Homo sapiens: one gene and its partner. The protein of the gene in region 1 interacts with the protein of each later gene in a pairwise test. Each region holds a gene or a part of one and is shown on either strand. Other genes may lie near its edges. The genes, in order: RASSF6 and STK3.

The links.
Region 2: the proteins of RASSF6 (region 1) and STK3 interact in binary tests that used the Homo sapiens proteins (3 or more experiments, as listed by UniProt).

The regions. Positions count from the first base shown.
Region 1 is NC_000004.12:73,578,610-73,582,452, reverse strand, and holds part of RASSF6 (ras association domain-containing protein 6), read left to right. Parts: intron 1-162; coding exon 163-264; intron 265-584; coding exon 585-636; intron 637-3,843.
Region 2 is NC_000008.11:98,453,974-98,456,594, reverse strand, and holds the end of STK3 (serine/threonine-protein kinase 3), read left to right. Parts: exon of another isoform or gene 1-356; coding exon of another isoform or gene 357-410; exon of another isoform or gene 411-594; coding exon 595-753; 3' UTR 754-1,962; downstream 1,963-2,621. UniProt on the Homo sapiens protein: Stress-activated, pro-apoptotic kinase which, following caspase-cleavage, enters the nucleus and induces chromatin condensation followed by internucleosomal DNA fragmentation.

The DNA of each region.
Region 1 (3,843 bases):
ATAATATTCAAAAACAACAAAGAAAAACAAACAAAAACAAAACAAATTTTTTAAATTAATGACCTTGGATTTTTTTTGCCCTATAAGAAGATTATGTTCAAGATATTGAATACCCTTAATATAATATAATTTTAAAGACTTATGTGACAATTCTTTTTCTAGACATCAATTTTCATTCCAGCCTTTGAATCAGAAACTAAGGTCAGAGTAAACAGTAACATGAGAACTGAAGAAGTAATAAAGCAACTTCTCCAAAAATTTAAGGTAACCTTTATCACTTAACTGAGCTATAAATATATTATATATAATTCAACTATAAACACACAAATCCACTCTTCTGAAACAGATCTATAAAGGTGTAAATCTAAATTGGATGTTGAGCACTGAAAGATTCTTTCCTTTGTATAACACCTTTTAGTAACTATCCCTTGAAAAATTATATAATTCCCATAAGAGCAGAGAAGATTTTATGTCTAAAAGTGAAAAATGGAAGAGAGAAAACAGACATGATTTGGGTCTGGTCAGGTTAGAAAACATCATATAACAACAAAGAATTTATATTTGTTCATTTTTTCCCTTGACAGATTGAAAATAGTCCCCAGGATTTTGCTCTTCACATTATTTTTGCAACAGGAGGTAAGAAAGCTTGATCACACTTTTTACCTGACTCTAGAGTGCTACAGTTTGCTGCCCAGGGGGAAGGCAGAAGAACAGTTTGCCTCATTCTGTGGAGAAAGGGGAGGAATGGGTAGGAGAAAAGGAAGGAGTGGTCTTTAGAACATTATCTATAGTCCACAATTTTAAAGAAAGATAACTTAAGAATAAGGTATCCCTGAAGGGTTGATTATATGAAAGAGTTTGCTTGTTGGCCAGACATTAAATTATCTAAATGGAGATCAAAACCCTCTGGAACTGTTTCGGCACTTTTGTCTTTGCTCACCTCTGTAACTTTCTTTTTGGCTTTCCTTTCTGAGTGTTGCTCTTAGAGGAGTCATGATTGCATACCTGTTCTCTCTGACATTGATATTGCCTCTTTTTTAGCACAGGGTCTGACACATTGCGGGAGTGCTATCTCTTCCTCAGTAGAGATGCATATTCAGAACTTCGTGGTGAGGGGTGAAAGGTTAGAAGCAGAACATTGGGAAGGCGCTGTAAGTGGGATGCTAGGAGCATAATAGAGAGAATAGAGAAAACTTAAAGTGATACTGAAATGAAAGTTTTTAAAACTTCACAAATGAAAAATTTTATATATCAATTTGTAGAAAAAACTCATGCTATAATTTAAGTGTCAGAATGTTCAAGCCAGAAATTTATTAGAATAAAATAATACATTTTGATGCCAGAACACCTTAAGAAAATGAAAGCTGTATCTCTAAACATATATAAAATTAAAGTTCTTATAATTGAAAGCTTAAAGATCTATAATTAAAGACTTAAACGTTAGACCTAAAACCATAAAAACCCTAGAAGAAAACCTAGGCATTACCATTCAGGACATAGGCATGGGCAAGGACTTCATGTCTAAAACACCAAAAGCAATGGCAACAAAAGCCAAAATTGACAAATGGGATCTCATTAAACTAAAGAGCTTCTGCACAGCAAAAGAAACTACCATCAGAGTGAACAGGCAACCTACAAAATGGGAGGAAATTTTCGCAACCTACTCATCTGACAAAGAGCTAATATCCAGAATCTACAATGAACTCAAACAAATTTACAAGAAAAAAACAAACAACCCCATCAAAAAGTGGGCAAAGGACATGAATAGACACTTCTCAAAAGAAGACATTTATGCAGCCAAAAAACACATGAAAAAATGCTCACCATCACTGGCCATCAGAGAAATGCAAATCAAAACCACAATGAGATACCATCTCACACCAGTTAGAATGGCAATCATTAAAAAGTCAGGAAACAACAGGTACTGGAGAGGATGTGGAGAAATAGGAACACTTTTACACTGTTTGTGGGACTGTAAACTAGTTCAACCATTGTGGAAGTCAGTGTGGCGATTCCTCAGGGATCTAGAACTAGAAATACCATTTGACCCAGCCATCCCATTACTGGGTATATACCCAAAGGACTATAAATCATGCTGCTATAAAGACACATGCACACGTATGTTTATTGCGGCATTATTCACAATAGCAAAGACTTGGAAGCAACCCAAATGTCCAACAATGATAGACTGGATTAAGAAAATGTGGCACATATACACCATGGAATACTATGCATCCATAAAAAATGATGAGTTCATGTCCTTTGTAGGGACATGGATGAAATTGGAAATCATCATTCTTAGTAAACTATCGCAAGAACAAAAAACCAAACACCGCATATTCTCACTCATAGGTGGGAATTGAACAATGAGAACACATGGACACAGGAAGGGGAACATCACACTCTGGGGACTGTTGTGGGGTCGGGGGAGGGGGGAGGGATAGCATTAGGAGATACACCTAATGCTAGATGACGAGTTAGTGGGTGCAGCACACCAGCATGGCACATGTATAGATATGTAACTAACCTGCACATTGTGCACATGTACCCTAAAACTTAAAGTATAATAATAATAAAAATAAAATAAAATAAAATAAAGATCTATTTTTTGGAAAATTCTAAGGACACATATATATTCATATTCTAGTTGTTTAGGAAAGAAAGAAAACCAAAAGATATAAAATAAATGGTAGCAATACTGGACTGTGTAACAATTTAAAAGATACAAATAGTAGATTACAAAGAATATTGTCAATGTACTCCAAAGATTAATAACTATAATACCAATAATTTCCTACAAAATGGTAACAAAACAACAGACAATCCGATAAAAATAGAAAAAAGCATGAAAATACAATTGAAAGGAAAAACCATAATAACCAGTTAAATAGTTTTAGAAAAGTCTTAAATTCAGTGAAATGCAAGTAGCTAAGGAAATGCAAGCTCAAGCCACACCGTAATATTATCTTGCACTTCTCAGATTGGCAAAATGCTTTAAAATGATTCTACCCATGGCTGGCATGCATCAGGGTAAAAAGATATTTTTATGCAACACTAGTGAAAATATGACTTTCTTCTTATTGGAATTTATTCTTGCAATATTTATTAAAATTTACAGTATATATGTCCTTTAACTTGACCATTCCATTTGTGAGAATCTATCCCACAAAAATATAAGCACTAGTGCCTACAGATTTATGTGTAACACTGTTTATAAGGACAAAAAGCTAAAGACAAAGTTACTCATCCTAGGGAAATGATTAAATAAGTGATTGTTAGGCTGCCATTGAATGGAATGAGTAGATTTATGCCAATAGAATGGAGGGAGTTCCATAATATATTTTAAGTGAGAAATGCAAGATGCCTAAAGGTATATATAAAAGATCCCATTTTTTAAACAGTTACAAGCTCCCATTTAAGTATGTGGTATATATGGTCTTATGACTAGGGAGAAAGGTATGGAGTGATAAATACAAAACCATTGAGATAGATTACCTGGTGGGGGATTGGGGAAATGCAGATGAGAGGATGAGAAGGGGGGTGTCAGGCACGGTGGCTCATGCCTGTAATCCCAGCACTTTGGCAGGCCGAGGTGGGCGGATCATTTGAGGTCATGAGTTTGAGACCAGCCTGACCACTATGGTGAAACCCCGTCTTTACTAAAAATACCAAAAAAATTAGCCAGGTGTGGTGGCGCACACCTGTAATCCCAGCTACTCAGGAAGCTGAGACAGGAGAATCGCTTGAACTCAGGAGGCGGAGGTTGCAGTGAGCTGAGATCGTGCCATTGCACTCCGTCTAAAAAAAAAAAAAAGAGAAAAAATGATTTGTTTAAAGGTGTGT
Region 2 (2,621 bases), on another chromosome or scaffold:
CTTACATAACTGTCCTACTCCAGAATTGATCATGGCTTCCTGCTTTTGGGGCCCCACCAGGCCTATTCAGCCTTACTTCCCGCCCCCTACCACAGTCATCTTCTTTATTAAGCATTTAGTAAAATGGAGGATAGAATGGTTAATTTAACCTTTATTCAGTCTTGTCACATTCTTGAGTGATCTCTGCAAGTGTTCATGATTATTGTAGCACTCAGTAGCTGGCAAAGATGTAAAAAGTTAGAGTGAATATACCTGGAACATATTCTGAAAATCTGTTTGTTGGCAGTGGTGGATTTGTCTTTGTACCTTTTTACAAATTCCATCAGCGTATTTTTCTCATTTGCCCTTTATTAAAGGCAGAGGATCGGATTGCTTCATTGCAGATTACTGGAGGTTCTTGCAAGATATGACCTCTGAGTTCTTCAAGGAAGAAATTCCTGTTTTAATTGTTGAACTATACTTCAAAGATGATGTAAAGAATTTGCTGAAATATTTATGTTAAAACTCATTAGACATTAAAGTCTAATTTCATTGTATTGATTGTGGATAATGTGGATAATTTCATTGTATTGGTATCTTTCTTTCTGTATCTAGTTGAAAAATCTAAGTTTAGAAGAACTACAGATGCGGTTAAAAGCACTGGACCCCATGATGGAACGGGAGATAGAAGAACTTCGTCAGAGATACACTGCGAAAAGACAGCCCATTCTGGATGCGATGGATGCAAAGAAAAGAAGGCAGCAAAACTTTTGAGTCTAATTTCCTCTCTGTTTTTAACTATTCTGGAGACCAAGAAACCACTAGGAATTGAAGGAATATTTGGATATTTTTAATCCTAAGATTTTGCCCTACAATTAGGCAGAGGTCAAAAAGTGACAATGGTACATGCCCAGGTAAATTCCCAAAAGGCAGAATTGACAGTTGTATCTGCTGTGCATTCACTCTAAGATGAGGAGAACAAAAGAAGTGTATTCTCTTGTTCTGTCAGCTGCATACCAGTAATAAAACTGTTATGAAATGGATTTTCAAGGTCTCTAAACCTTGAAAATCCAAAGCTATTGTTGCATTGTACAGCACTGAAGGGCTTTATGTTACAATATTCTTTATTCCTATCTAGTATACTAGGCTATTTATTGTATCCCCTTAGGTAAACTTATTTATTTATGCTATTTTGCTTTGTTTCATTTTTTAAGGACAAGATCAGGATAGCTTTGGTGAAGGTAGGGTCATATTAATATGATGATAATGTGCAACCAATTTATACTTTCTGCAGGGAGCTATGGGGTACATTCCTTGATTTCCAGGATAGTTTTTCAAATAGGAAAGCAATAATGGCAGTAGTTCTCAAATGGGCTAGGCCTTTTTTATATTGAAGCAATAATTCCATTTTTACCCTTTGAAATTTTGTTTTTTTGATTTTTGATGTTTGGTACAAATAGAACTATATATATTTAGGTAAAATAGATCTATCGTGTTTAAAACCAAAGAAATCAATGGAACCCTTGCACAAAAAAGTGTGATAAATATTTTTAAATAAAAACTTAATACAAATGTAATTTGTTAATATTGTTTCATGTTTTATGTGTAGATCTAATAGCTGAACTGATTCAAACTGTAATAAGCTCATCAATTTCATTTCTATGAAAATGTGCTCTGTTGTCACAGGATGTTTCTGTTGATTTTATTCATTTCCTGGGAATTGGTAAACATCATGTTCCTGATGATAACCCAGTAGCAAAAACATTTGTACTGAGTGGTACAAGCCTTGGGGACTGAAAAAAAAAAGATTAAAACCATTAAAAAGAAACTCATTTTTACGCTGAATGAACATTTATATGATTGCATTGGGACCAGTCATTTCCTAAGCTACATATGGCCATCTTGACAGTGTTTTTTCTTTTGTGTGTTTAATTATTATGTGTAAATCATAAAGACAAATAAATTTCACTGTGCCACCCAGCATATTTCGTTTCTGTATCTTTGTTAAAACTCATGACCTGGACTCTGCATTTTCCAAGCAAGGGACGTATATTAGTTAGGACAGGCTAGATTATGCAGTGCTGACAACCCTCACCCTTCAGCGGCTTCACATAATACAGGTTATTCCTCACTCTTGCTCCAGGCCCACCCCAGTTTGGCAGGGCGCCCTGCTCCTATCATCCACACCCAGGGACCTGCTGACAGGGCCTCAACCATCTGAGATATCTGTGGTCACCACAATAAGGAGAAGGGGAGCTGGAGAGTTTCATACTAGCTCCAGCCAGTAGTGATACATGTCTGGTTGGCCACAACCCAGTATTCAGAATTAGTCACATGGACACTCCTAACTTCGAGGGAGTCAGGAAGAGTAGCATCACCACGTAGCTGGAGGGGAGAGAACAGGAAAAGCTGATGAGTTCACTAATGTCTGTCACAGAAGGTATATTGTCTCTGGAAAGCTTCCATTCCTTTTTAAAAATGGTATTTGTACCCTAGGTAATGCCTCAAAGTGTCATTTGTCTCTACCCTGTTGAGCCCTTACAAATAATAATAAATTGTATAATTGGATACAAATTATAAGATTATAAAAAGAACGATAAGTATGAAACATACAAAGATTATTAAAAAATGAAGAACTGAAT